Regions from separate parts of the Homo sapiens genome. Here regions 1, 2, 3, 5, 6 and 7 are each linked to region 4. The links come from fine-mapping of genetic effects on gene expression. A gene starts in region 4. Each other region holds a variant in brackets. All regions are shown on one strand. Distances are from middle to middle.

What was found.
Region 1: its variant is fine-mapped to the expression of PYGB in whole blood (INTERVAL, PIP above 0.99).
Region 2: its variant is fine-mapped to the expression of PYGB in whole blood (TOPMed, PIP above 0.99).
Region 3: its variant is fine-mapped to the expression of PYGB in unexposed skin (GTEx, PIP above 0.99).
Region 5: its variant is fine-mapped to the expression of PYGB in whole blood (TOPMed, PIP above 0.99).
Region 6: its variant is fine-mapped to the expression of PYGB in blood mononuclear cells (TOPMed, PIP above 0.99).
Region 7: its variant is fine-mapped to the expression of PYGB in thyroid (GTEx, PIP above 0.99).

What each region holds. Positions count from the first base shown.
Region 1 is chr20:25,768,219-25,772,557 of GRCh38, forward strand. All of the region lies in intron 3 of FAM182B (family with sequence similarity 182 member B), which reads right to left. Among named protein-coding and RNA genes, the nearest start is that of FAM182B, 26 kb to the right of the region's middle. The variant T/A (reference allele first, on the strand shown) is at 1,769.
Region 2 is chr20:25,316,829-25,321,167 of GRCh38, forward strand. It overlaps ABHD12 (abhydrolase domain containing 12, lysophospholipase), which reads right to left. Exons shown (of 13, transcript NM_001042472.3): 4 at 3,371-3,490; 5 at 220-250. Among named protein-coding and RNA genes, the nearest start is that of PYGB, 71 kb to the left of the region's middle. RefSeq lists enhancers at 149-758, 1,872-1,931, 1,962-2,201 and a silencer at 2,552-2,631. The variant C/T (reference allele first, on the strand shown) is at 2,073.
Region 3 is chr20:25,583,547-25,587,885 of GRCh38, forward strand. It overlaps NINL (ninein like), which reads right to left and starts at 1,985. Exons shown (of 24, transcript NM_025176.6): 1 at 1,909-1,985. RefSeq lists a silencer at 1,920-2,049. The variant A/G (reference allele first, on the strand shown) is at 2,303.
Region 4 is chr20:25,246,000-25,250,338 of GRCh38, forward strand. PYGB (glycogen phosphorylase B) reads left to right here and starts at 2,086. Exons shown (of 20, transcript NM_002862.4): 1 at 2,086-2,422. The coding sequence starts at 2,180. RefSeq lists silencers at 1,118-1,371, 1,390-1,469, 1,650-1,839, 1,850-2,039, 2,350-2,729 and an enhancer at 2,120-2,199.
Region 5 is chr20:25,329,701-25,334,039 of GRCh38, forward strand. All of the region lies in intron 2 of ABHD12 (abhydrolase domain containing 12, lysophospholipase), which reads right to left. Among named protein-coding and RNA genes, the nearest start is that of ABHD12, 59 kb to the right of the region's middle. RefSeq lists an enhancer at 570-1,091. The variant C/T (reference allele first, on the strand shown) is at 1,903.
Region 6 is chr20:25,285,885-25,290,223 of GRCh38, forward strand. It overlaps PYGB (glycogen phosphorylase B), which reads left to right. Exons shown (of 20, transcript NM_002862.4): 15 at 2,541-2,599. Among named protein-coding and RNA genes, the nearest start is that of PYGB, 40 kb to the left of the region's middle. The variant C/T (reference allele first, on the strand shown) is at 2,141.
Region 7 is chr20:25,657,642-25,661,980 of GRCh38, forward strand. The region is part of intron 2 of ZNF337-AS1 (ZNF337 antisense RNA 1); the gene reads left to right. Among named protein-coding and RNA genes, the nearest start is that of ZNF337-AS1, 36 kb to the left of the region's middle. The variant C/G (reference allele first, on the strand shown) is at 2,455.

The DNA of each region.
Region 1 (4,339 bases), 520 kb after region 4:
TTGCCCCACAAATAATTGTACTCCCAGGGGAAAACTGCACTCTGCTGAAAACCAGGCACCCACTCCCTCTGCTCCTGCACTCAGGTGGCTGTGCACAGCCAGAGAGAAACACACATGCCTTTTGCTCTCATTTAATCATCAAGCCCAAACCTCCAGTGGGCACTGGATGATGTTCTACAGACTCACTCATTTCCTGAGTCCATAAGTCTGCCAGACTTCTTTGTTATCTTAATAAAAAAATATATAATCTAAGCATGTTATGAATACCAACTGATTTAATTATCATCAAACTCTATGAATCTGTTCTATAATAATCACTATTTCACAGCTGAGGAGATGCTGGCACAGGAAGAGATGAAGTGACTTGCCCTGGAGCCCAGGCACCCAGCTCTAGAAGTGCTGCCCTGTCCCCAAGCAACAGTATCTTGCCTCCTCCTTCCTCCTTAAACCTCTAAAACCTTCCTCAGCCTTCCTTACACCTGTTGCCTTGCTTCCTATTTCAATTTGAAAATAGATGCAATAAAGAGAGAACCTTCCCTGGATCCCACCCCCACATCTCCCCAGCTGCTTGCCTCTGTGCTTCCTTCTCCACCTTCGCTTGTTATTGTAGCTGGAGTGTCTCCACTCATGTTAGGGGCGAATTTCCTCCATCATATCCACATCATATCCACATTATATCCACAGCTCAACCCTCAGGTTCTTTCCTGAGTGTCCGCTTTGCACACTGCCTGGTTCCACAATGCGGTCTCCCACCCATCTCACACCCTGCATGCTTACTTATTCATCATCTGTTCTGCTCTACTACAGTGAGGGGCAGGGATTCTGGGTATCTTATTCACTGCAGATTCCAGCATCTAGAGCAGTACCTGGCACCTAGAAGGTGTTGGTATTTAATGAAGTCAGTCATTTTATATGTCAGGCTCTGGCCTGGTGCTGGGGACACTAGGGTGATTCAGACAGGTCCAAGTTTACAGTCCCATAGGGGAGACAAACACATTACCTGACAAATTTGCAGGCAGCCATTTATATTTTCCATCTTACAAAGCAGCCGTTATTGTACTTGAGAGGAAATGCACTCAAGCCGTGAACTGTAGCCGTGAGCTCCCCTACCTCAGGACAGAAAGCCCCAGGCTCCAGCCCTTACATTCCTGGGCCTCCAGGGCTCCCTGGACTTTAGGAAACATCTAGTAAGGGAGACCAAGTCCACTTTGACTCAGAGCTGTGGGATGTCAACAAGGTGCTTCCCCTCTCTGGTCCTCAATGTCTTCGTCTATTACAAGAGATGATGGTGCCAGCTCAGCGAGCTCCACAGGGCTGGGGCAAATGGGACAGGGAGGGTGACAATGCTTTGTGGACAGAGAGGAGGAATTCTGAGTGGCTACTGGAAAGGCACCATGTTTATTTGACAATTTCAAACATGACAGAACTGCAGAACACAGACATCAAGATTCCCCTGTAATTCCATTTGGAGTCTAAAGCTTAGATTTTGTTTTGTTTAAGCAGTGGCAAACATTATGTATAGATATAGATGTGGGATCATAAAATGTGTTTAAAAGTTATTGATGCAGGACAACTTTGCATATCAATACACAAGCATTTATTTGATTTGTTTTAATAGCTGTGAAATATCCCACTGTATGAAGAGACTAAAATCTGTCCTTGTGTTGTGGATATTTGGATTGATGAACCATTGGAACAAAACAGAGAGGGCAATCAAAGCATTTGACAGCCTGGCAGATCAAAGTGAGAGGTTTATTACAGAAGACAG[T/A]AATGCTAAAAGGGGAGGAGAGCTAAGTGAATCCACCTGCTGCAATCAGAGCCGAGAATCCCACCACCCTAAAAGCCAGGAGACAACGCGGCCAAAAGGGCAGAGGCCCCCAGGGCTCCCAGCCATGCCAGATGCAAACTTGTCATCCCACCCTGTGTGTGGGCTTCCTATGCCCTGGACAGTCTTTCCTGAGGCAGAGCTGTTTTAAGAGCTTAGAGCACACATTCTACAGCAGAATTTCTTATGAATGAGGTCCCTGTTCTGTGCTCCTCACCTATCCTGGGCCCTTTTCCTAACTTGACTTTCGGTAGTGGGTGGATAGAGGCCCCAGGTAAACACCAGGCCCCAGGTGGACATCAGGGCTCAAGTGGACACACAGGCTCCAGGTGTATATCAGGCCCCAGGTATATACCATTTTCCTGGTACGTATTAGTAACCAAGGGGACACCGGACTCCAGGTGTACATCAGGCTCACAGGTGAACACCCAGGCCCCATATGGACACCAGCCTACAGGTGAGCATCAGGCTGCAGGAGGATACCCAGGCCTTAGGTAGATATCAGGCCCTACAAGGACACCAGGCCTCAGGTGGACATCAGGGCCCAGTTGGGGACTCAGGTTCTAGGAAGACACCCAGGCCTCAAGTAGCATCAGGGCCAAGGCGGATACTAGACTCCAGGTGGACATCAGGCCCTAGTTGGTCACTAGGCCCTAGGTGGACACCTGGGTCCCTGGTGACCATCAGGCCCCAGATTAACTCCAGGCCTTAGGTGAACATCTGATCCCAGTTGGATATCAGACCCCAGGAGAACATCAGTCCCCAGGTGGATATCAGCTTCCAAGTTGACATCAGGCCACAAGTGGACACTGGACTTGAGGTGTACATCAGGCCTCAGATGGACACCCAGGCCCCAGGTGTACATCAGGCTCAGGTGGAAATCAAGGCACAGGTAACACCAAGGCACAGGTGGTTACCTAGGCTTCAGGTAGACATCAGACCCCAGGTGGACACCTGGGTCTCCGGTGGTCATCAGGCCCTAGGTGGAAACTCAGGTCCCAGGTGCACATCACGTTCCAAGTGGACACCCAGGCCCCATGGTGATACCCAGGTTCCAGGTGGGCACTGGGCCCCAGATGAACACCAGGCTCCGGGTGGATACCAGAACTTGGGTGGACACCCAGCTCTGAGGTGGATATCGGGCTCCAGGTGGACATCAAGCCTCAGGTAGATATCTAGTCCCCAGGTGGACATAAGACCCCAGGTCGACACCAGAACCTGGGTGGATACCTAGGTTTCGGATGGATGCATCTCCAGCTGAACATCAGGCTCCAGGTGGACACCCAGGCCCTAGGTGAACACTAGGTCTTAGGTGGACATTAGGCCCCAAGTGGACAACCAGGTCCCAGGTGGACACCCAGCCTTAACATGGACATCGGGCCCTAGGTAGACAGCAGGTTCAAGGTGCATATGAGGCTCCCGATAAACACTGGTCCCCAGGGAGACCCTTGTCCCCAGGTGAACACCAGCACCCAGGAAGACATCCACCTCCACCTGCACATCATTCTCCAGGTTTATACCTAGGCCCTGTGGGAGCACCAGGCCCCAAGTGAGTACATAGATCCCTGGTGGCCATTAGGCACCAGGTTGACACCCAGGGCTTAAGTGGACATGAGGCCCCAGATGAATGCTAGTCCCCAGGTGGATAAATAGGCCCCAGGCATACATCAGATCTGAGGTCTATACTCAGTCTTCAGGTGGACACTAGGCCCCAGGCAGACACCAGACCCCAGGTGGATACCAGGCCCTATGTAGACACCAGTCTGCAGGTGGACAGCAGGCCCCAAGGGGACATTATGCCCTGGGTTGACACCTAGGCTTCAGGGCAACACTAGGCCACAAGTGGTTACCTATGCCCCAGGTGGACATCAAGCTTTAGTGGAATTCCTAGTCAGCAACTGAACATCAGGCCACAGGGGGATGCCCAGGCTCTAGCTGAATACCAGGCCTCACATGGACATTAGGCCCCAGGTGAACAGCAAGCCCCAAGTGAATACCTAGGTTCCTGGTGAACATCAGGAAGCAGGTGGCACTCAGGCCCTACACTCAGGCCAAAAGAGAAATCAGAACATATGTGGACACTCAGGGCCCAGGTGGCTATCAGGCCCCAGGTTTATATCACTTTCCTGGTAGACATCAGTACCCACGTAGACACTGGACTTCAGGTATACATCAGGTTCCTAGGTGGACACCCAGGCCCCAGGTGGACACCAGCCTACAAGTGGACATCAGACCACAGGAGGACACCCGGGCCCCAGATAGATATCAGACTCCAGAGGAACACCCACGTCTCAGGTGGACATCAGGTCCCAGGTTAATTCCAGGCCCCAGGTGGAATTCAGGCCCCACCTGGACACAAGTCCCTAGGTAGATACATAGGCTCTGTAGGCCCTGGGGAACATCAGGCCTTAGGTGAAGTTCTAGGCTACAGGTGGACATCTTGCTCCAGTTGGACATCTGGTCCCAAATGGACATCGGTCTCCAGGTGGACACAAAGTCCCAAGTTGGACATCA
Region 2 (4,339 bases), 71 kb after region 4:
AAGCAGGAGGATAGTTTGAGCCCAGGAGGTCGACGCTGCAGTGCGCTGTGACTGTACCACTGCACTCCAGCCTGGGCAACAGAGGAGGAGGACCCTGTCTCACACACACAAACAGCCCAGCAATAGTTAACTCTCAAGCTGTGAGTCTGGTGACTCCCTTCACTTCCTGCCCTGGAAAGAACAGCCCAGGGAACAGGTGTGGGTGCTGCCTGCACTCACCTTGTAAAGCTCCACGCGGTGGTCGCCTCCTCTGGAGAAGAAAACAGGACATGGTGTGAGCACATCTTCTCAGAGTTGGGCCCCAGGTCAACTTGTCCTCCATACCCCAAACCAGGGGGAGGCCAATGAAAGAGGGCAGAACCTCTTCCTTGGGTCCCCCTAAGTAGCCCCACACTCGCCTCTGGCAGTGCTGTGCCAAGGGGGAGATGGTCTTAGCACTTTGGGGGAGATTTCTTAATGACTGCTTTTATTTTTCAGTAGGTAATGCACACCTACAGCCCCAAACTAGAAAGACACTAAAGGAAACACAGCAAGGCCTCATCCACCACACCCCAGACCCTCCCAGCTTCCCTGTGCCAAGGACACCCTGTGTAGACAGAGGCTGTGCTCCAACAGGACCCGTATGGGCGACTTCTGCCCTCACTTCTTGCTCCGCACGTCTCAGCCGACCTTCAGAACTCTGCTTAGCCACACCACCCTGGCCTCTCATGGTCATCTTGACTGTTTCCCACCTGGCACTAACTTCTGTTTGCTGCTGTGGCCACCCTGCCTTACAGCCCTTCACATGTGTGTGCTCTGCACATGGGATATGCTCCTAGAATCTCCCCAGGGAGGCCCTGAAGTGCCGGAACGGCTGCCTCCCGCCCCTCACAGCCAACTACAGCTTCACCGTGCATGTCGCTACTGAGACTAAGTGGGCTCGGCACACACCCTCCCATTTGTACTTCCTTGTCTGAGGCCTGTCTAGGCTCCCTTCCCTCTTTCTTTCCAGTTGTTGGCCAGCTGTTAACCTGGACCGACCCCACAGCAGGGACATGGGCCACCTGGGAGGAGGGCGGGTCCACACTCTCCACACTCCCTAGCCGTGCTCCTCCTTCCTCAGGAGCGGTCTCAACATTTCAGGTATGGGGGCGGGAGTGTTGCTGGTTGGACACCAGGATGAGATGGAGGAGGAAGCCAATAAAGTACAGAAACAAAAATATAAAGGGTCAGGTGCGGTGGTTCACACCTGTAATCCCAGCACTTTGGGAGGCCGAGGTGAGCAGATCACTTGAGCTCAGGAGTTTGAGACCAGCCTGGTCAAATGGTGAAACCCGTCTCTACTAAAAATACAAAAATTAGCTGGCCATGGTGGTGGGTGACTGTAATCCCAGCTACTCGGGAGACCGAGGCAGGAGAGTCACTTGAACTCAGGAGGCTGAGGTTGCAGTGAGTCAGGATTGTGCCACTGCACTCCAGCCTGGGCAACAGAGTGAGACTCTGTCTCAAAAATTAAAATAAAAAATAAAGGAATGAGTTTCAAGGCAAGGAGGAAACACTGCAAAATATTTTCAGTTATCATTGTAAGAGTTCACAGTGGCTCTAAGTTTCTAAAATTTCCTACATTAAGCAAAAAAGGAACAGTTGCTGGGAATCCAGGGGGTCTGGACCTCAGGGGGACCCGGGTGGTGGATCCCGCAGACCAGCGAAACCCCAGTGGGATGCACAGGACAAAGAAAGCAGGCAACGTGGGGGTGGCGAGGACTGCAGCCAGGCAGTCTCTGCAGGATTGGGAGGGGGCAGCAAACACTGAAAGTCACGGCATCCCTTTCTAACCTAAAGTTATAGGCAGGATCTTTTTTTTTTTTTTTTAACCATGTGATGGGCACTGCAGAACTGAACCTTATTCACAGCCAACCACAGTTCTGTCATTTATAAAAAGATGCTGCAAGAGCTGTTTGTAGCCACTTGCTCTTTGAAAAGCAGAAGAGAAACCCTCTGCAGCTTGTCCCAGACAAAGAAGAAAGGAAACTGTGCAGCACATGCATGATTCTGTAGCTAGACACGCCATCCCTGACACAGAAACCGCTTCA[C/T]GGGCCATGCCGCCAGGCTCTTTCAGCAATGCTCTCTGCAGGGTTCCACCATGCAGACCCCACCTAGGCCTGCTTTCCCTTCCAGAAGGGCCCAGCACAGCTCTCCTTGCTGGCTCTGCCTATAAAATGTTTGCCCCCAGCCCTGACATACCCTGGTGCCACACGGGACCTCGGCCCTGGCCCCGCAGCAGCCCTGTCTCCGTGCTGGGTCTGCCTCTGTGCTGGCTCCTGGCTGCCTCTCTCACACACGAAGACCTTGGTGGTTTTCAAACAATGCTTTGTTCAGAAAATGTATCCCCTCCGCACCCACCCTGGGTTCTCCCACAGAGGCTCTTCTGAACAGCAATCACATGGTGTGGAAGGAGCACCCTTTTAAGGCAGGGAGGCCAACTCCAGGGCAGCCAGTGGAAAGGACAAGCCATTAGACCCACTCAGGAAAAGCATCTGAGATAAAACTGGGCAGGGCTGATTAACCAAAGAGTGCATGAACTTCAGCAACAGCCCGTTAGGGTGAGCAGAGAGCTCACACTGTAGGGTGGCCTGCAAAGACCCCAGCACCTGGTGCTTTCAGCCTCTCCCTCCTGCCCCTTCTCAGCACCTGCCACTTTTTTCCAGGAAGTGTGCCACCTCCTCCAGGGCTGCCCTGGCTCCGGCTTCACCTGTCTGCCACCTGGAGCTATCTTACAGGTAACAAAGATCTGCCTGCCACTTCAGGCAGCATGACAGATATAGAGAAAACAAGCTGCCAGTGAGCTGAAGCCGCCCATTCCCAAGAGCGCGAGGCACCCACAGCCAAGTGCCACTATGACCCCTCCTCGGAGGGACCCCAAAGCCCTCACTCTCCAAGAAACCCTGCTCCCCAAATCACATACCAGCAGATGCTGTGACCTTTGAGATTACAACAAGGAGAAAAAAACATGCCCCTCTGGCTGGGGAGCTCAGCTCCTGACTGAGACTCAGCCTCCTTCATCCCAATCCAGGCTGCAGCTCCAGATAGGGGACGGTCTGCACACAGCTTCCCACACTTGGTCCCCACGGAACACAGCCGTGCTGGCCTCAGCCTGTGGGAACCCTGCTTCATGTAAACGTCACCTAAACTCCGCCTTCCCTCAACCCCTTCAGAACTCTGCCTTTCCCTTCGTTCTTGGGAGGCTCTCCCTCATTGCAGTGGGTCAGTACACCCAATTTTGTGGGACCGCAGGTTGCTCCTGCTGGTTTCCGGCAGACCGGGCCAGGACATTCCCACCCCAAAAAGGAGCCATGCTCCACAGCAAAGATGATGGGCTCCTCTCCCTCACCTGGTACCTGCGTTCCCATGCAGGTACAGAATGATAGGGTGGCTGGAAGCCAAGGCATCCTCATACCACATCTGGTCTTTGCCTTGGGCGTTCTTCCACCAGACTGCAGGGACGGTGTGCCTGCAGACAGAAGCAGAGGGGAGCGCAGGATCAGATGTCCCTTCTGTCCTCATCCTGGCGACTGCACGTGGTGTTACTTAATCAGCTCAAGTCCAGACAGCAGGGAGCTGCAGACCCCATCTAACTACAGGGGAACAGATGGGGGTGGGTGGTAGAAAACTATCCCCATCACTAGAATCAATAACCACGGAACTGCAGGCTGTGTGGATGGCACTGACAGCTTCAGCAGGAGCGTTCCCTGACTGGCAGGCCAGCCTCCTCTGGGCCACAAAGGCTTGCAATGTGCCAGTTACCACTGGGGCCTGGCAGAGAAGCAGCACTTAGTCCATCTTGAGTAATAGCATTTTCCTCATACGTGCCCCACATCCCAGTTAACCCCATGCTTAAATTGTCCACAGTTTAACTCACAATGGATTTTAAACAGTACATGCTGTCACATTTGCTAATTCAGCAACACCAATGTTTGTGAGCCAGACTAGAAACCGGGCCATCGCTGACGCCATTTCTAATGTCAAGTATGCACCACCTTCCCAGTCTGCTCATGGTCCACACCTGGCTGGGCACTCTGAAGCTGCTGGTCTATCTAGCCAAACCCTCCTTCAGAGAGATACTGAGGTTAATTTTAACTCAGGCCACATCGAATACTGTTAATCACTGGGGAGGGTCCAAATTAATCACTTTTCTGTAAAGCTTATTCAAATTCATTCTGGATACCAGTGACAAGAATCTTTAAAAAAATTTAATGGCCAACTTCTTATTTTCTAGATCTTAAGCTTCAGCATCTCATTTCTAACGTCTCTCTCTGATCCGTTCAAAAGGATCACTTTTGGGATGGTTCTAGTCACTATG
Region 3 (4,339 bases), 340 kb after region 4:
ATTGTGGAAGACAGTGTGGCGATTCCTCAAGGATCTAGAACCAGAAATAACATTTGACCCGGTGATCCCATTACTGGGTATATACCCAAAGGACTATAAATCATTCTACTATAAAGACACATAAACGTGTATGTTTATTGCAGCACTATTTACAATAGCAAAGACTTGGAACCAACCCAAATGCCCATCACGGATAGACTGAATAAAGAAAATGTGGTACAGATACACCATGGAATACTACGTAGCCATAAAAAAGAATGAGTTCATGTCCTTTGCAGGGACATGCATAAAGTGGGAAGCCATCATTCTCAGCAAACTAACACAAGAACAGAAAACCAAACACCGCATGTTCTCACTCATAAGTGGGAGTTGACAATGAGAACACATGGACACAGGGAGGGGAACATCACACACCTCACACATCGGGACCTGTCGGGGCGGGTGGGGGGCAAGAGGAGGGAGAGCATTAGGACAAATACCTAATGTATGTGGGGCTTAAAATCTAGATGACGGGTTGATAGGTGCAGCAAACCATCATGGCACATGTATACCCATGTAACAAACCAGAACGTTCTGCACATGTATCCCAGAACTTAAAGTAAAATAAAATTAAAAAACAAAAACAAAACAAAACAAAAACTTGGCCGGGTGCAGTGGCTCACGCCTGTAATCCCAGAACTTTGGGAGGCCGAGGCAGCTGGATCACCTGAAGGTCAGAAGTTCGAGACCAGCCTGGCCAACATGGTGAAACCCCCATCTCCACTAAAAACACAAAAAATTAGCTGGGCGTGTAATCCCAGCTACTCGGGAGGCTGAGGCAGGAGAATCGCTTGAATCCGGGAGGCAGAGGTTGCAGTGAGCCGAGATGGCGCCATTGCACTCCAGCCTGGGCAACAAGAGTGAAACTTCGTTTCAAAAACAGCAACAACAACAAGAACAACAACAAGAAGAACAAAAACTCTGCTTTTAAAAGTATTTTAAGTCCAGTGTGAAAAACCTAGAAGTCACAGCAAAGGCCGCTAAGAAACTTACCATTACTCATGACCCCTCTTACTACTGACCTTGAAAATCACTTGCCCTTCTCCAAGGCCCCGCCAGCTTCATGGGTCTCTTCCTGAACCTCCTCCCTAGTTCCAGGGCTTGGCCTAAGTCTCACAGAGCAGAAAGAAACGTGGCCACCCTTCCTCACGTGAGTCCTGTGCAAACATACAGCCCCACACAGAGCTCCTAACAATGGGGCATCAGTACCCAGGCACGATCGATGATTATGAACCCAACGCGATCAGAGACTCCCACATGGTGTGTGTGACTGCGCGCACAGGCGGGAGGAAAGGGGCGAATCTGCAAAACGAGTACAACAGATAAAATTCGCAACAGACTTCTACACCCTTTCAATCAACCGTCCCAAGCGCCACGAACGCGGGTCCCGCTCCGTGGGGGGCCGCAGCCACACTGGCAGGAGGGAATCCTGGGCCTCGACCAGACGCCGGCGGCGTCAGGAGAAACGGCCCGCGCTGGGCAGGCGGCGGGCACCGCGTAGCTCATTACCACGGGGGGCCCCGGCCAAGGCCGCCCGCCTCAGGCCGAGCCTTGGGGCTGTGCTGGACCCGGGCCCTCGTTCGCACGGCGCCCGCGCCGCCGCCGTCGGGAAACCGGGTTTTCAAGCGTTCGGCCCAGCGGGCGCTGTATTTTAGGGCGTGACCCCCGCCCCGCCCTCGAGGGCGACCGGAAGAGCAGGCACCACAGCAGATGCGCCGAGTCTGCGCCCCGCACCGCGAGGAGCACCCGAGGCCGCGCTCCCGGAGCCGGGTCTGGTGACTAAGGCGCGGGTCGCGACGCAGGGGCGGCCCCGGACTCTCGACCCCACCAGCCGCCTGAATGTCCCGCCGGACGCCCGGGCCGGCTCACCTGGGAGGCGCCTCCGCCGTCCGCCCGCGCGGGGCCAGGAGCGCGGCACCACCCCCGTACCGCCGGCCGCTCTTTGTGTCTGGAGGCCGCGACGCAACACTCCTCCCGGCCTCGAGGCACCGCCCCCTCGGTGTCCCGGCGCAGTGGGCGAACAGGGGGCGGGGCGAGCGAACGGGAGAGGGGGCGGGTCGGGTCCGGGATTGCGGGGCGGGGTGGGGGCAAGGCGGCCTCCGCAAATCTCAGGGCGGCTCTGGCCAGTTTGGAGCCTGGGGTGACCCTTGGAGCTGACCTCGCTGGTCCCTGTCGGAGCCCTGCGCGCTGCGGAGCTTGGCGGTTCGCAGCTCTCGGGGTAGCATCTTCTGGAAACAAGCCCGGAGGCCGGCCAGGCAGGGGT[A/G]ATACCCCAAACCCACCACTGAGGAAACCGCGACTTAAAACCTAGGTCGTCACGTTTCCACCGCATATTAAATCAATACGGGTTGAGCATCCCTAATCCAAACATCTGAAATCCGAAATGCTTCAAAATCTGAAAGTTTTTGAGCGCTGACCTGATGCTCAAAGGAAATGCACATTGGAGCACTTCTTTTTTCTTCTTTTAACTTTCTTTTCTTTTGAGAAAGGCTGTCACTTCTGCTGCCCAGCCTGGGATGCAGTGGCGCGGTCATGGCTCACTACAGCCTCGACTTTCCCGGCTATGGCGATCCTCCCGCCTCAGCGTCCCAACCCCCAGTAGCTGGGACTGCAGGCATCTGCCACCATGTCCGCTAATTTTTGTATTTTTAGCACAGAGTCTCACTGTGTTGCCCAGGCTGGTCTCGAACTCCTAGGCTCAAGGGATGGATCCACCGCCTCGGCCTCCCAAAGTGCTGGGATTACAGGCGTGAGCCACCGCGCCCGGCCTGTATTTTTTTAAGAGAGGAGGCTTCACCATGTTGCCCAGGCTGGTCTGGAATTTCTGGCCTCAAGTGATCCTCCCACCTTGGCCTCCCATAGTGCTGGGATTACTGGCATGAGCCACCGCACCTGGCCTCATTGGAGCATTTCTAATTTTGGATTTTCAGATTAGGGGTGTTCAATTGGTATAATGCAAATATTCCAAAATCTGAAATCCTAAATGCTTCTGGTGCCAAGCATCTCGGTTAAGGGATATTCAACCTGTATATATTTATCGAACACCTACTAGGGCCAGGCATTGTCCTAGGGGCTGCCAACAGCGGTGCAAAAAATCCCTGGCCCTTATAGAGTTTACACAGAAAACAATTTAAAAACGTAAATACCCGGCCGGGCATAGTGGCTCATGCCTGTCATCCCAGCACTTTGGGGGGCTGAGGCAGGCGGATCACCTGAGGTCGGGAGTTCAAGACCAGCCTGACCAACATGGAGAAACCCCGTCTCTACTAAAAATACAAAATTAGCCGGGCGTGATGGCATATGCCTGTAATCCCAGCTACTCAGGAGGCTGAGACAGGAGAATCGCTTGAATCTGGGAGGCGGAGGTTGTGGTTATCAAGCCACTGCACTCCAGCTTGGGCGACAGAGTGAGACTCCATTTCAAAAAAAGAAAAAAAAAAGTAAATACAGCCAGGCACGGTGACTCATGCCTGTAATCCCAGTAGTTTGGGAGGCCACTGTGGGCAGATTGCCTGAGGACAGGAGTTCGAGACCAGCGTGGCCAACATGGTGAAACCCAGTGTCTACTGAAACACAAAAAAATTAGCCAGTTGTGGTTAACGCGCGCCTGTAGTCCCAGCTACTCGTGAGGCTGAGGCACAAGAATTGCATGAACCCAGGAGTCGGAGGTTGCAGTGAGCTGAGATCTTGCCACTAGACTCCAGCTTGGGCGACAGAGCAAGACTCTGTCTCCAAAAAATAAAAATAAAAACATAAATATACAAAAATGTCAGAGAGTTATATCAGAATTACAAAATGAGCTACAGTACACTGTAGCATGAGAAAGGTGCATATACTTTGTAGGAACTCCACTTTAGAGGATGTGAGGATCAGAGGCAAAATGGGGTGAGAAGGAAGCAGGATGAAAGACAGGCTATGGGGGAACGGAGTTTCCAAGGGCGAGTGAAATTTCCAAGTGCCTGCAAGTGCTAAACCCCATGCAGAGCAAAAGGCAAACACAGGGAGTGGTTCAGAGACGCTCATAGTGTGTTCTAGGCTGGGAGGTTTCTCTGACCTGCTGAATGTGCCCAGATACCTTTTGCTATGCCCATGACCTGTCCCAACCAGTGTGGGGCACAATGGCAGGACACACCGTGCAAAGGTGGTCCCTGTGGGATGCGCAGCCAAGACCCCGATGACTCCAGTTTATAACCCTGGATTCCCAGGGGTGCTCAGAGCCATGGGGGCTGCCATTGTGAAGAATGTCTTCTCTTCAGTGCTCCTGATGCTCTGCACGGGCTCCCACTCACTGGCTGGAGAATGA
Region 4 (4,339 bases):
AAATATTGTGGAAAAAACAGGAAATACAAAATGTATGGAGAAAATAAGATAACCCCCCTGATAATTCTTCCATTCAGAAATAACCAGTGTTTAGGTTTGGATATACACCTGTGTTTCTAACACAGTAGTCCCTAGCCACATGTGGTTATTTAATTTAAATTTAAATTGACTAAATGAAAGTAATATTCAAATCATTACTGTCATTTCTGCATTACATCCTTATTTTTGTGTTTCATTTATCAGTATTGTGTCATCAATCACACCTTCCTAGCTAGCTATTAAAACAGTCATTCCTTTTAGCAGCACAATGGTTTATGATATTAACTTTGAGCACAGATACATTTTTCTGGGCTTGTGCAGTGGAGCAGGGCTTGGCTGGGGTGAACCTTGGCTGTTTCCCTTATTAGCTGTGTGGGCTTAGGGAAGAGTTAACTTCTCTGTGGCTCACCTTCTCCATTGTCAAGCGGGGGTAATAGCAGGCTATTTGCAGGGATCAGGAGTTAATACGTGTACACTGCAAGTAATGATCAATAAGTGTCAGCGCCTCCATTCTTTGCCAGGTGTGCACCACAGCTGGGGGATTAAACTTTACCACACCACAGCAGATAACATATTTGCATAACTTGCTTTTTGTCTTCTTAAGCTTTCCTTGAACTCAATTCCCCAGAGTGGTAGAAGTGGTCATAGGGCACTATCATTTTTATGACTTCTGAATTGCCAGATCACCCTCAGAGAGATTGCATCAGTGTTCGGAGCTTGCAGCCAAGCTCGACCCCACAGCCCTGCCATCTGTGCCCGAAGTTCGATCTTGTTGGCTCCAGAATCCCTAGGACATAGTGCAGGAGTGAATCCCGAGCTGGAGCTGGGTGGGCTGTGGGGTCATTCCAGATTGATTAACCTCCGACCTCTGAAGTCTGCAGCTGGAAGGGGCTCCAGGTAAGAAGATAACTTTGAAGCATCACACCAGGAAACCTACTGCACCTGGACTTTCATGACATTTCCTGCGGGCAATTTTTACCTCCACGAAATTCAGTAACCTTTGCAGCCCCTTCAGCCCAAGACCACCAGGAGCAAACCTGTGGTCCACAAAATCGGGTGTACTGACCCACTGCAATGAGGGAGCGCCTCCCAAGAACGAAGGGAAAGGCAGAGTTTGAAGGGGTTGAGGGAAGGCAGAGTTTAGGTGACCTTTACATGAAGCAGGGTTCCCACAGGCTGAGGCCAGCAGGACTGTGTTCCGCGGGGCCAAGTGTGGGAAGCTGTGTGCAGACGCCCCCTATCTGGAGCTGCAGCCTGGATTGGGATGACAGAGGCTAAGTCTCGGTTAGTGGCTGAGCTCCCCGGCCAGACGGGCATGTTTCCTTCTCCCTGCTGTAATCTCAAAGCGGACAGCGTCTGCCAGGTGGTTTCGGGAACAGGGTTTCTCCGAGGGCTAGGGGGCTGCGGTCCCTCCGAGGCGGGGTCGTGGTGGCATTTGGCTGTGGCTGCCTCGCGCCCTCGGGAACGGGCGTCTCCAGCTCGCTGGCAGCTGGTTTTCTCCACGTCTGTCATCGGCCTGGAGTGGCAAGCAAATAGCTGGTATTTTCAGAGCCGCCCTGCCCCGGACAGAGAAGACCGGGCCCAGCAGGCGTTGGTGGATGCCTTTCAAGCTGTAATCAGTTTCCCCGAACGTGTACCAGGTCTCGGCCACAGCCCGAGCCCAGCGCGCTCCCGCGGGGCACCTGGTGACCCGGTGCAGGGCGGGAGGGCCGGTCCCAGGAACCCGAGGGCCGGAGGGCAGGGCCCCCTTCCCGCACCGTCCCCGGGCTGGCAGGAGCGGCCACGACGGCACGCTCCGAGGCCCCGGGTCCCTTGCCCCCTCCAGTCGCTCCCACTTTCTGCCGGGCTTGCCCAACGAGGGGGCAAACACCACGCTCAGGTGGCGTGGACAGGTCGCTGCCGCCTCGGACTACACCAGAGATCTCAGCTATGAGCCTGGACGCCCGCCCCGCCCTCCCGAGGCCCCGCCCCGCCCCCCGAGGCCCCGCCCCGGCGCGGCGCGCAGGCGCGGTCCATCCCGCCCGCAGAGCCGCAGTGCCGGGCGCCAGAGCAGCGGCGCCAGAGCAGCTGCACCATCCCGGCGTTCGCGTGTGCCGCCGCTTTCCTCCTCCATCTCTTTTCCTCCGCCTCCGCCGGCGCGATGGCGAAGCCGCTGACGGACAGCGAGAAGCGGAAGCAGATCAGCGTGCGCGGCCTGGCGGGGCTAGGCGACGTGGCCGAGGTGCGGAAGAGCTTCAACCGGCACTTGCACTTCACGCTGGTCAAGGACCGCAATGTGGCCACGCCCCGCGACTACTTCTTCGCGCTGGCGCACACGGTGCGCGACCACCTCGTGGGCCGCTGGATCCGCACGCAGCAGCACTACTACGAGCGCGACCCCAAGGTGAGGCGCTGCCCCGCCCTGTGCGCCCGTGCCCGCTGAGAGGGCGCCGGTCCCGGAGCCGCGCCAGCGGGGGTCTCTGCGGGGCGGCCCGTCGGGCGTTACCTGCGCCCCTAGCCGGCCGGCGGCCAGGCACAGCCGACTGGGGAGTCGCCTGGAAGCCGCAGTCGGCGGGGCCCGGGCGTCCCCTGCGCAGGGCCGCGGCCACGGGTCCGCCCCACTGGGAGCCCGCGCCTGGCGGGGTCCGCCGTCCCCCGCAGATGATGCTGAGCCCGGGAGCCTGGCGGACGTTCCCGGTCTCTTTCTGGCCGTGCGCTTCCGCGCTGGCTGCAGAGCCGGTGCTCCCCGCCCCTGCCTCCAGCCACTCTTTGTTTTCCTGCAGCAGCCTGTGGGAGAAAATGGGACTGGAACCAGGCCTGGGCAGCCTTGTGGGTTGGAATGGGGTGAGCTCGGTAATCTGCAGGGAATTGTGAGACTTTTTTTTGTGTACGCTGCTTAGAAGAAAATCACTGAAGATGCCTGCTTCACGCAGGGAGGGGTACGAAGCTCAGAGATGGAGATGGAGCCCTCGAAGAAGGCTCTGTCTTAGAGGTTCCCACACCTCCCTTGGAGAAATTTGCTTGGGTTGAAGTTGACAGAGATCATCTTACTAATTGTTACTTTTTATATCTTGCAAAAATTTGTTTGAGTAGTGAAACAAAGTCACTGATTGTCCCCGTTACTCTTAACCATGTTTACTATGGGCCTGTGTTCTTGCTGTGTTTTTGGTATTCCTAAATATACATACACATTTTTAAAAAGTATAATGCACATACAGTTTTTTAGATTTTCTGTTTCATTCGTAAACATTTGTAACTTTTTCACTGATAAACAGCTTTGCAGGTCAATGGATAGGATGGTAGTTTTCAGTTTGATAGGTACATGGTAGTCTTGCACAGCCCCCTGTTGCCAGTTTTTTGTTGTTGTCGTTTGCTTTTAAACTCTTGACCATGGAGAATTGTCTTTCTACTACACTAACGTAGAGGGAGAACTGGTGAGGAAAAGACACACTTCCAGACCTGAAGCCACTTGGCAAAGATTTTACTTGCAGTGTACATCTAGGCAGTGAGCACTTGCTTTATGGATGGTATTTTAGAATATTTTTGTAGGGCATTAAGATATGTTTAATACGGTAATTGCTAAGAGATTGACTGCTTTTCCAAACTTATTCTGGGACATTCTTTTTTCTAAAATGGAGATGGTAAAAGGGACAGATTTGTTAGAATACCAACTGGGGCTCTTCATATTTGGTATGCAAAACATAGAAGTGGCAACGAATGGCCAAAACAGGTTATAACAAGGGCTTGGGATGACTTTGCCAGGAAAAGCAGCCAAGAAGCAGTGGCTCCCCCAGAATTCCCTGCTGTTGGGAGAGTTCTGATGCACAGCACCATTTTTTTTTTTTTTTTAATTCTGAGTCTTGCCCTGTAGCGTGAAGCTAGAGTGCAGTGGCGCGATCTCGGCTCAGTGCAACCTCCGCCTCCCGGGTTCAAGCAATTCTCCTGCCTTAGCCTCCCAAGTAGCTGGGATTACAGGCGCCTACCACCACGCCCGGCTAATTTTTTGTATCTTTAGTAGAGACGGGGTTTCACCATGTTGGCCAGGCTGGTCTCAAACTCCTGACCTCGTGATCCGCCCGCCTCGGCCTCCCAAAGTGCAGGAGTTACAGGCGTGAGCCAACGCACCCGACCCGCAACATCATTTTTATTGTCTAAGTGGCGGATGGCAAGGACATAGCTCTGCCTTCACATTCAAGGGCATTTCCTTGGAGCTGGACCAGGACTCAGCTCTACACCTTAGGGTGCCCATTGGAGTATTTATGTATAATCACATCCTGGAGAGGCCAGCGATGGGCTCAGGGATTACGGAAATGACCTTCAT
Region 5 (4,339 bases), 84 kb after region 4:
TCCAATCACTGTGAGTAACAGAGCAGCCTTGATACCGGCAGCCATAAGAGGTGTGGTGTCAAGGGAAAGCCTGGGTTGGTTATTTGGGTTTTATCAAATTCCAATTACCTGATGCAGGCTTACAGGACCTTCCGTATGAAAAAAGGGGATAAGAAAAGAAAGGTAACAGGAGTCAACAGGGACTGCTCAGGGGAAGGAAAAAGAGGAAGCTGGCCCTTTGCTTTAAAAACAAATGCATGGAATTGTGTTGAGGGAGGAGCCAAGATGGCCAAATAGGAACAGCTCCAGTCTACAGCTCCCAGCGTGAGCGACACAGAAGACGGGTGATTTCTGCATTTCCATCTGAGGTACCAGGTTCATCTCACTAGGGAGTGCCAGACAGTGGGCGCAGGTCAGTGGGTACGCGCACCGTGCGCAAGCCAAAGCAGGGCAAGGCATTGCCTCACTCGGGAAGCGCAAGGGGTCAGGGAGTTCCCTTTCCTAGTCAAAGAAAGTGGTGACAGACGGCACCTGGAAAATCGGGTCACTCCCACCCGAATACTGTGCTTTTCCGACTGGCTTAAAAAACGGCACAACAGGAGATTATATCCCGCACATGGCTCGGAGGGTCCTACGCCCACGGAGTCTCGCTGATTGCTAGCACAGCAGTCTGAGATCAAACTGCAAGGCAGCAGCGAGGCTTGGGGAGGGGCGCCCGCCATTGCCCAGGCTTGCTTAGGTAAACAAAGCAGCCAGGAAGCTCAAACTGGGTGGAGCCCACCACAGCTCAAGGAGGTCTGCCTGCCTCTGTAGGCTCCACCTCTGGGGGCAGGGCACAGACAAAGAAAAAGACAGCAGTAACCTCTGCAGACTTAAATGTCCCTGTCTGACAGCTCTGAAGAGAGCGGTGGTTCTCCCAGCACGCACCTGGAGATCTGAGAACGGGCAGAATGCCTCCTCAAGCGGGTCCCTGACCCCTGACCCCCGAGCAGCCTAACTGGGAGGCAACCCCCAGCAAGGGCAGACTGACACCTCACACGGCTGGGTACTCCAACAGACCTGCAGCTGAGGGTCCTGTCTGTTAGAAGGAAAACTAACAAACAGAAAGGACATCCACACCAAAAACCCATCTGTACATCACCATCATCAAAGACCAAAAGTAGATAAAACCACAAAGATGGGGAAAAAAAAGAGCAGAAAAACTGGAAACTCTATAAAGCAGAGCGCCTCTCCTCCTCCAAAGGAACGCAGTTCCTCACCAGCAACGGAACAAAGCTGGACGGAGAATGACTTTGACTAGCTGAGAGAAGAAGGCTTCAGACGATCAAATTACTCCAAGCTACGGGAGGACATTCAAACCAAAGGCAAAGAAGTTGAAAACTTGGAAAAAAATTTAGAAGAATGTATAACTAGAATAACCAATACAGAGAAGTGCTTAAAGGAGCTGATGGAGCTGAAAACCAAGGCTCGAGAACTACGTGAAGAATGCAGAAACCTCAGGAGCCAATGCGATCAACTGGAAGAAAGGGTATCAGTGATGGAAGATGAAATGAAGCAAGAAGGGAAGTTTAGAGAAAAAAGAATAAAAAGAAACGAGTAAAGCCTCCAAGAAATATGGGACTATGTGAAAAGACCAAATCTACGTCTGATTGGTGTACCTGAAAGTGACGGGGAGAATGGAACCAAGTTGGAAAACACTCTGCAGGATATTACCCAGGAGAACTTCCCCAATCTAGCAAGGCAGGCCAACATTCAGATTCAGGAAATACAGAGAACGCCACAAAGATACTCCTCGAGAAGAGCAACACCAAGACACATAATTGTCAGATTCACGAAAGTTGAAATGAAGGAAAAAATGTTAAGGGCAGCAAGAGAGAAAGGTCAGGTTACCCTCAAAGGGAAGCCCATCAGACTAAAAGCAGA[C/T]CTCTCGGCAGAAACTCTACAAGCCAGAAGAGAGTGGGGGCCAATATTCAACATTCTTAAAGAAAAGAATTTTCAACCCAGAATTTCACATCCAGCCAAACTAAGCTTCATAAGTGAAGGAAAAATAAAATACTTTACAGACAAGCAAATGCTGAGAGATTGTGTCACCACCAGGCCTGCCCTAAAAGACCTCCTGAAGGATGCGCTAAACATGGAAAGGAAAAACCGGTACCAGCCACTGCAAAATCATGCCAAAATGTAAAGACCATCGAGACTAGGAAGAAACTGCATCAACTAATGAGCAAAATAACCAGCTAACATCATAATGACAGGATCAAATTCACATATAACAATATTAACTTTGAATGTAAATGGACTAAATGCTCCAATTAAAAGACACAGACTGGCAAATTGGATAAAGAGTCAAGACCCATCAGTGTGCTGTATTCAGGAAACCCATCTCACGTGCAGAGACACACATAGGTTCAAAATAAAAGGATGGAGGAAGATCTACCAAGCAAATGGAAAACAAAAAAAGGCAGGGGTTGCAATCCTAGTCTCTGATAAAACAGACTTTAAACCAACAAAGATCAAAAGAGACAAAGAAGGCCATTACTTAATGGTAAAGGGATCAATTCAACAAGAAGAGCTAACTATCCTAAATATATATGCACCCAATACAGGAGCACCCAGATTCATAAAGCAAGTCCTGAGTGACCTACAAAGAGACTTAGACTCCCACACATTAATAATGGGAGACTTTAACAACCCACTGTCAACATTAGACAGATCAACGAGACAGAAAGTCAACAAGGATACCCAGGAATTGAACTCAGCTCTGCACCAAGAAGACCTAATAGACATCTACAGAACTCTCCACCCCAAATCAACAGAATATACATTTTTTTCAGCACCACACCACACCTATTCCAAAATTGACCACATCCTTGGAAGTAAAGCTCTCCTCAGCAAATGTAAAAGAACAGAAATTATAATAAACTATCTCTCAGACCACAGTGCAATCAAACTAGAACTCAGGATTAAGAAACTCACTCAAAACAGCTCAACTACATGGAAACTGAACAACCTGCTCCTGAATGACTACTGGGTACATAACAAAATGAAGGCAGAAATAAAGATGTTCTTTGAAACCAACGAGAACAAAGACACAACATACCAGAATCTCTGGGACACATTCAAAGCAGTGTGTAGAGGGAAATTTATAGCACTAAATACCCACAAGAGAAAGCAGGAAAGATCCAAAATTGACACCCTAACATCACAATTAAAAGAACTAGAAAAGCAAGAGCAAACACATTCAAAAGCTAGCAGAAGGCAAGAAATAACTAAAATCAGAGCAGAACTGCAGGAAATAGAGACACAAACAACCCTTCAAAAAATTAATGAATCCAGGAGCTGGTTTTTCGAAAGGATCAACAAAATTGATAGACCACTAGCAAGACTAATAAAGAAGAAAAGAGAGAAGAATCAAATAGACGCAATAAAAAACGATAAAGGGGATATCACCACTGATCCCACAGAAATACAAACTACCATCAGAGAACATTACAAACACCTCTATGAAAATAAACTAGAAAATCTAGAAGAAATGGATATATTCCTCGACACATACACCCTCCGAAGACTAAACCAGGAAGAAATTCAATCTCTGAATAGACCAATAACAGGAGCTGAAATTGTGGCAATAATCAATAGCTTACCAACCTAACAGAGTCCAGGACCAGATGGATTCACAGCTGAATTCTACCAGAGGTACAAGGAGGAACTGGTACCATTCCTTCTGAAACTATTCCAATCAACAGAAAAAGAGGGAATCCTCCCTAACTCATTTTATGAGGCCAGCATCATCCTGATACCAAAGCCGGGCAGAGACACAACCAAAAAAGAGAATTTTAGACCAATATCCTTGATGAACATTGATGCAAAAATCCTCAATAAAATACTGGCAAACCTAATCCAGCAGCACATCAAAAAGCATATCCACCATGATCAAGTGGGTTTCATCCCTGGGATGCAAGGTTGGTTCAATATACGCAAATCAATAAATGTAATCCAGCATATAAACAGAACCAAAGACAAAAACCACATGATTATCTCAATAGATGCAGAAAAGGCCTCTGACAAAATTCAACAACCCTTCATGCTAAAAACTCTCAATAAATTCGGTATTGATGGGACACATCTCAAAATAATAAGAGCTATCTATGACAAACCCACAGCCAATATCATACTGAATGGGCAAAAACTGGAAGCATTCCCTTTGAAAACTGGCAGAAGACAGGGATGCCCTCTCTCACCACTCATATTCAACACAGTGTTGGAAGTGCTGGCCGGGGCAATTAGGCAGGAGAAGGAAATAAAGGGTATTCAATTAGGAAAAGAGGAAGTCAAATTGTCCCTGTTTGCAGATGACATG
Region 6 (4,339 bases), 40 kb after region 4:
TCTAGTTCATGACTGGCTCATGGGAACAACCTTCCCGAGTTCTTGCTTGTTCAAAACGGCCTGGACCCTTCACCATGAAGGTCGGTTTGGCTGAAGATGCCAGTCTTAACTCCACTTCCTTCCCCCAGTGCTTTTTAGGGCCCTACCGGGCACTGTCTGGAGGGTGGGTGTGTGTGCAGAAGTCTGGCGATGTCTGAGTTCTCGATCTCATCAGTGACTCACTGTCATTGCCGTGTCTTGGTGTTGGCCGTTACAGGGCATTTTCGCCAATACTCCGGGTGCTTGTTGAACGTGTTGCTGGACTTCAGGGAAGTTGTCTGTTTGAAACGTGTGTTTGGTTCTGTTTGGTTTTCTGCTTCTGGGCTGCAGTGTGGCGTGAGGTGGCTTTCTCTGGCCTTCTTCCTTGGTGCCTACTTCTCTCAGGACTTGGTTTGTCCTTGTCCTGTGGAGTGGCACTGCTCTCTGGAGTCTCTGCCGGCTGCACTCTCCTCCCGTGCCCTCTGCTCCTCTCCTCTGCTCTCTGCCCCCCTCCCTGAGGACTTGGCATTTGGCTCCATGTCTTTCCAAGTTGGTGGTCACCAAGGGTATGTGATTTGCGAAGGGGTTCACTCCCCTCCTGTGGCCTGTGGCGGGGCTGGGTGCTGACTTCCATTGCTACGTTGGTGTGAGCTGGATCACCTGGGGCTATTCGGAATAGGCTTCTCAGCCCTCCAAGGCAGCTCCTCTGCTGGGCCAAGGCCATGCTTCCCCAGCCTGTGGCTGCGCCTCTGCTGTCTCTCCGGGTCTCACCTGGGCGGGAGGCTCCTCTGGAGGCCAGGACCTGCCTTGTGAGGGTGCCCTTGTGGGAGAGGCGCTTGCCCAAACCTGCTGTTCCCCGGGGGCTCCTTGGTGGCCCCCAGGACTGGAGCTCTCTGCCCAGAGTGCCCCTCCCCAGAGGTTAGGACTCCCATGACCCTGTCCCCTGCCCACTGTGACCTGGGGTTTGCATGGTTTCCTTCTTTCCTAGTTGTGGTGAAATCATCACTTGTGTGTTTCGTTTTTCCTGTTCTCTGCTGATTTCCAGAAGTGACAAGATCCAGCATTTAAGGGGCAGCTGCATTCCTCCTGGAGCCTGGGGCTGGGTGGTACACATCAGCCCGACTCCCTGCTGCCTCACCCAGGCCCGGCTCGCTGGTGAACGCCTGTCCAGGGTGGCCGCTCATCCCCTTTTTGTAGGAACCTCCCGTGAAATCTGCAAACAAATGACCTGGCGAGGACAGCCTGTTTGCTGGGCTGGCAGTGAGCCGGCCGTCATGGCTTGACCCTCCATCCACTTCTGTGAAGAACTTTGGGGGCCCTCACCCGCTGTCCCAGTGAGGCAGAGGGGAGACACAAGGTCTCACCCAGCGCCCCTGCAGGCTGATGGCACCACAGCCACAAGGCTGAGGTTGCCACTTTTTCTTTGTGTCATCCAAACAATGTGTTTAAAACACAATTTAAGGCCAGTGTGGTGGCTCACCCCTGTAATCCCAGTGATTTGGGAGGCTGAGGCCTGATGACTGTTTGATGCCAGGAGTTTGAGACTGGTCTGGGCAAAAAAGTGAAACCCCATCTGTACTAAAAGTGAAAAAATTAGCTGCATGTGGTAACCTGTCGGTGCCTGTAGTCGCATCTACTTGGGAGGCTAAGGAGGGGAAGATCACTTGAGTCCAGGAGTCTGTGGCTGCTGTGAACCCGGATTACACCACAGTACTCCAGCCTGGGTGGCAGAGCTAAACCTTAACTCTTAAAAACAAAAACAAACAACAACAAAAAAAACCCAAGAGTGGTAGAGTGCGAGGCGCGGTAGCTCACGCCTATAATCCCTGCACTTTGGGAGGCTGAGGCGGAAGGGTTGCTTGAGCGTGGGAGTTTGAAACCAGCCTGGGCAATGTAGAGAAACCCTCATCTCTACAAAAAATTAAAAAATTAGCTGGGCGCAGTGGCACGTGCCTAGGATCCCAGCTACTCAGGAGGCTGAGGTGGGAGGATTGCTTGAACCTGGAAGGTAGAGGCTGCAGTGAGCTACGCTTACACCACCGCACTCCAGCCTGGGCGACAGAGTGAGCTGCTGTCTCAAGAAACAAAACCAAACAAAACCCACAAGTGTGCCCTTCATGTA[C/T]AGGGGCCTTGAACACTGGTGACCAGACCCAAGGAGGCTCCTGTGTTGGGCTTTTCTGGAAACTGAGGTGCAGCTTTTCCTCTGAGCCCCGGGGAATAGCATCTTTGCTCGAGTCAGCTGCTGGGTTCGTCCATGGTCCTGGCTGGCCTTCCTCACCAGCGGGGAACCTAAGTGCAGACCTCAGGGTGGCCTCACTCCCTTGTAAGTGGCAGGTTCCTGGTGGGTGGGCAGGTGGGTGGCCAGTGGCCCTGTGCCACTGTCACCCGTGTCTCTGGGGCTTGAAGTACATGGCGGAGCGTGCCTGTCCTGCCTCAGGGTCGGCCTCTGATGCTGCTGGGCCCCAGCAGGGGCTCGTCCGGCTCGCGGTGCCTTGTGTGAGTCTCTTCCGTGTGTCCTGCAGGAATCAAGAGAGACCCGGCCAAGGCTTTTGTGCCCAGGACTGTTATGATTGGGGGCAAGGTGAGTGACTTCCTCTGCAGTCCTCTCTGTGGTGTTTGGTCTGGGGATAGTGGGTGGGCAGCCTGCACGCTTCTCATGGTGCCACCACATCCATACTCGGGAACCGGATGCCCAGCGGTCACCGGCCCCTCTGGTATGCCTGTGGGGGTGGGGACCCTGTAGAGAGTCAGAATGGGATGGAAGCCTCCTGCCTGCCCAGCTCACTGGAGGGGTCCCCAGCCTAGAGGGCCAGTCCCCAGTGGGCTTGCTGGTGCCCACCTCAGAGAGGGCAGTGTCCTTTCTCTTTGTGCCCAGTGGGCACAGGGCGTTGTGGCTGCTTCATCACCTGCACATGCCCTGAGCATTGCCTGGTTTCAGTTCACTTTATTTACTATGACACATACTTTCAGAGTCCTAGATGTGCTGTCATCGAGTCCCAGGTCACATCGTCACACTCATCAGCCCTCTGCGGCCAGTGTCCCCACCTCCTGCCATGTTTCCCTAGTAGCTTGGTCTTTATCCAGAACTGTGAGGCTGCTGTGGGGTGCAGCGTCCTTAGGAGGGTCCTGCTGGAGCAGTGGCCCTAAGTGAGTCTGGACTGTGTGAGGCACCCCAGCCCTCCACGGCAAGGCCGGGGCCTGGGGGTGCTGGTGCCTGTGTGCAGCCTGAAGGCTGCCCTCTTGCTGCCTTCAGCGAGTGGGAAGCTGGTCAGAGGGGTGGGCACTCCTCTGGGCTCCGCCACCTCCTGGCACACCCCATTTGGTCTCTGTCCACTCCTGTCACCTGCTGTTTTTGAAGCAAATTTTGGAATTGTGTCATTTTATTTGTCAGTATTTCAGTATGTAAAGTCCATAGAGATACGGAGTTCGAAAAAGTTTTAAATGTTATTATGAAAATTTTAGGCTGGGCACGGTGTCTCACGTCTGTAATCCCAGCACTTTGGGAGCCAAGGCGGGTGGATCGCATGAGCCCAGGAGTTCGAGACCAGCCTGAGCAGTGTGGTGAAACCCCATCTCTACAAAAAAGTGCAAAAATTAGCTGGGCGTGGTGGTTCATGTCTGTAGTCCCAGTTACTTGGGAGGCTGAGTAGGAGGATCGATTGTCCTGGGTGATTGAGGCTATAGTGAGCTGTGATTGCACTACTGCACTCCAGTGTGGGCAGCAGAGCCAGACCCTGTCTCAGCAAAAAAAAGAAAAAAAAAAGAAGGAAACATTTGAACCTGGAGAAAAGCAGGAAGAATTGTAGCAAAACCATAAACCTGTCACCCAGACTAGCTGAAGCATTTCACAGTAAACTGCAGACACTCTAGCTCTTCACTCTTACATACGTCAGCATTCCTTTTCATAAAATGATGTTTTCCACCAGAACCACAATGGGAGTAGACTGAAACATCACCACACAGTACCACCATCCGTCACACCTAAAGCATTGGACAGGAGTCCTCCGTGTCCTGAAATGTTCACTCGGGTACTTCATGGGTCCCCTGCCCAGTTGTCTTTGTAAAGTAACAGACATTTCTAAAAGTTGGTCTGAGTGAGGGCCCAGTGAGTCCTCACCTTGGACTGGCCGTGGTGTCTCAGTTCTCTGTAGGTTTTCCCCACAGTCTGTCTGTTACAGACATCGGGTTGTCTGTCCGCCGTAGCCTGGCTCTTTCCGAATGTGTCCCTCCAGTGTGTCCCAGTATGTCCCTAGGGACAGTTCTCTGTTTCCTGTCAGTCGGCAGCTCTAGAAATCCTGGTCTCTTTTACCTTGTAATTTCT
Region 7 (4,339 bases), 410 kb after region 4:
TCGTAGAGATGGGTTTTCGCCATGTTGGCCAGGCTAGTCTTGAACTCCTGACCTCAAGTGATCTGCCTGCCTCGGCCTCCCAAAGCGCTGGAATTACAGGCACGAGTCACCACTTGCCCAGCCAAAACTGCTATTTTGAATTCCTGGTCAGAGAGCTCACAAGTTGCCATCTAGATAGGGTCACTCTCTGGATTTTTGGTTTGTCTTTTTGGGGAGGTCATATTCGTCTGTTTACTGTTGTTTCTTGTGGGTATATATATATGTTTTTGCAATGGAAGATTAGTTATTTATTCTAGTTTTCTCTGGCTTATTTTGCTTTTTATTGAACATATTTGCTTGGTGAATCTTTGCTACTAAGTCGCTGCCTTCTCTGTGGCTGTAGGTGGCACGTTAAGCCCAGGTTTGCCTCTTCTCTTCTAAGTGGTCAGAGCGCTGCCTGTCCTAAATGGAGGAGGTCCTAAAGATATTATCCCAGCAGTGAGGGAAGATTGTCTAGGAGTTCATGCCCAGGGGACCTGGGGAACTCCCTCCTACAGCATGGTGCTGGTGAACAGACACTCTGATTTAGCATCTCCTTTGGCTGAGTTACAAAGCGGTTTCTGAGGCTGGGGGTGGTAGTCCTGCCTACCCTGCTTGTTTCTGCCTGTCCTTAGGGTTAATTCTCCCTTCAGGCAGTCACGATGCTACCCATGGGTTAAAGCATGGAGAGGTCTCCTGCCTGGGAATCCAAGAAGTTGGAGAAGTGGCTGACAACCTCAATTTCACTTTTTCCATTGTAGAAACCATGAGCTGCAGGGAGACTGGTGCCAGGCATAATAGGGGGAGGGGCATCATGGATATGGAAGTCCAATTCTCCTGTCCTTTGCTTGAAGTTTTTCCTCTTCTCTGTGGCCCTGGGAATGGTCTCACCCTTGTACTTGAGCTCCGGGTTGTTGCTGGTGAGGAGTTTGGAGGTGCATATTTGGTTTTGGTTTTCTGTGGTGGGGATTGAAGCCATCTTGGAACTTCTTGTCATGTGTTTTTAAACACATCTATTTATAAGTGTAATATAAATAGTAAAAAAAAGTGTATTTTGTATGTTTTCTTTACATATATAATTTAGTAGATGTTTTAAAATAAAAATGAGACAATATTAAAGAGTATGAAACAATAGAAAAAATGAGATGAAATATGAACAGTTGATTTCTGTGTATGTGTATATACACACCTACACTTTCCTTTTAGATACTACAGTTTACTCTAAAACATGAAAATTCAGAAGTCCTTATCAGGTACTTGGTTTCAAAAATAAACTATAAATTTGAAAAGGCAGAAGTAATGCGAGAGACATTGACCACAATGCAGAAATTTAAAAATGAAAGGTAACAAAAAATGTATCCATTTGGACATTGAAAACATACATTGGAGTCTTAGCTTACAGAAGAAGTAAAAGTAAAAATTGCAGCATAAAGAAAGGAAATGACATTCAGCATACATTTCGGAAACTGAAAGATATTTTGATAAAAACAAGAAGAAGCAAATAAATGAGTTTAATACCAATGTAAGAAGCTGGAAAAGGACCAAATGGCCAGGCATGGTGGTTCATACCTGAAATCCCAGCATTATGGGAGCCTGAAGTGGGAAGATACGTGGGACCAGGAGTTCAAGACCAGCCTGGGCAAGAGAGTGAGACACTGTCTCTAGTACAAAAATTAGCCAAGTGTGGTGGTGCTTGCTTGTAGTCCCAGCTACTTGGGAGGCTGAGGCAGGAGAATCACTTGGAATAGCCTGGGTAACAGAGCAAGGCCCCATCTCTTAAAAAAAAAAGAAAAAGAAAAAGAAAACCAAAAGTAAGACATAACCACAGGTGTGGAGGAGAGTATGTAATTGTAAAGAAATACGATATAATCTTTGGCAAGAATAAAATTAGGAGAAAGGTATGTGCTTCTCTAGGAAGGACATGCCTGTTATTAAAAAGTGTTTAAAGAATAAGGAAAACCTTTGATTCACTAAACTGCAGGTCACTTCTCAGTAGTTTCAACCAGCACTTATTTTTTTGTGTCTGTATTGTTTATTTGGAATTTTCCTCTATGGTTTGTTTAAATATCAGTAAAGATCTGAATGGCACTGTGTTTTTACTTCATCATTTGTACATAGGATGTTCACCCATTGTTGAAGAAAGCGTTTTGTTTAGGAGAGAGTGTCTGTGTACTGTGGTGTGCGATGGTAGATGTGATTATCACTGAAGGTCACCGAAATGTGAAAATCCCTGGTACTGGCTTGACAGCTGTGTGGAAATAAAGACAACTCAAACGGGAACAATCAGGGCCCACTTAGAAAGTGCTTGCTAAAGCAAGAGAGTCAGCCACTTTTGACAAAGTGGGAAAGCTTTGTAGTGAACAAAAGGGAAGGCATCAGATGTGCTGTTGACTGGAGGCTACTGACATGGGACACTGGAAGTGTCTAATAAGCATT[C/G]AGGCATCTCATATGACTGGTTATGGGAGTACATTTGGCTTTCTCTGCTTGGTTCTGAGTTGGAAGCCAGGGCACAAATTAGAGAAGCTGCATCACTGCCATGTCCTGACTGGTGTGGGTTTGTTGCTACAGCAGTTCCTGGTTTGCCTTTCTGAGCTGGTTGCTGCAAAGGGTGTGGGTCACACCCTGCTAAGATTCACACTGACAAATGTATGCAGGCTTGGGAGTGAATGGAGAGGAAGCCATTTAATCATGGGGCCAATGAGTCTCTGCCTTAATCATGGGATTTGAGGTGACATTCAGTGTTTTATACATTGATTGATTTCTTTATTGAAGTGAGTTTTATATAATATAAAACTAACCATTGTAAAGAGAACGACTCAGTGGCAGTTGGTAGATTCACAGTGTTGCTCAACCATTGCTTCCATCTAGTTCCAAACAATTCCATGTCAAAATATAGCTCTGTACCTACCTGTTAAGCACCTCCTTCTTATTTCTCCCTCCTCCTAGCCCCGGACAACTGCCAGTGCTCTTTTCATCCATATGGATTTACTTACTCTGAATGTTTTAAATAGAATCATACAATATGTGACCTTTTGTGTTTGTCTGTTTTTCCTAAGCATGTCTTCAAGGTTCATCCACGTTGTAACAGATGTTATAATTACTTTCTTGTAATTTTCTTTCTCTTTTCATTCCTTTTTTTTTTTTGACACAGGGTCTCACTCTGTTACCCAAGCTGGAGTGCGGTGGTTCAATCTCGGCTCACTGCAGCCTTGACCTCCCAGGCTCAATTTTTCCATGGACAGGGTCAGGGGGATGGTTTTCGGATGAAACTGTTCCACCTTAGATCATCAGGAATTAGTTTGATTCTCATAAGGAGTGTGCAGCCTAGATCCTTTGCATGTGCAGTTCAGAATAGGGTTCATGTTCCTATGAGAATCTAATGCCACCGCTGATGTGACTGGAGGTGGGGCTCAGGCGGTAATACTTGCTGGCTCCTTTGTTCACCTCCTGCTCTGTGGCCCGGTTCCTAACAGGCCATGAACTGGTACCCATCCACGGCCTGGGGCTTGGGACCACTGCTTTAAATCCTAGATTACTTTAATACCTAGATTCCTAGGTTACTTATAATACCTAGTACAGTGCCTACATATAACTTTATTGGTGTGGATTTGACTTAGTATTTGGCTCAGGGAAAATTCAATTTTTGCTTTTTGGAACTTTGTGAAATTTAACATATTTTTGAATATTTTAAATCTGAGTTTGGTTAAATCCAGAGACACAGAACCCATGGATACGGAAGGCCCATAATATATACACAATGGAATATTACACAGACTTAAAAAGGAAGGTAATCCTGTCTCATGCTCCAACATGGATGAATCTTGAGTGCTAAGTGAAAGAATCCAGTCACAAAATGACTGTGTGATTTCACTTACATGAGTAATCTAAAGTAGAAAAATTCATAGAAACACAAAGTAGAATGGTATTTACTAGGGTGTGGAGGGAAGGGGAAAAATGGGGAGTTGTTTAATGACTATAGAGATTCCATTTTGCGTGATGCAGAAGTTCTGGGGACCTGGTCCACAACATTGTGAATATATTTAATGATACTAAAATATATGCTTAAAAATGACCAAGTTGGTAAATTTTGTTGTGTGTTTTAATATAATTTTTTTTTTTGAAACAGGGTCTCACTCTGTTGCTTAGGCTGGAGGACAGTGGCACCATCTTGGCTGACTGCAACCTCAACCTCTTGGGCTCAAGCGATCCTCTCACTTCAGCCTCCCAAGTAGCTGGGACTACAGGCATGCACCACCACGCCCAGCTAATTTTTATATATGTTTTTTTGTAGAGATGAGGTTTTGCTATGTTGCCCAGGCTG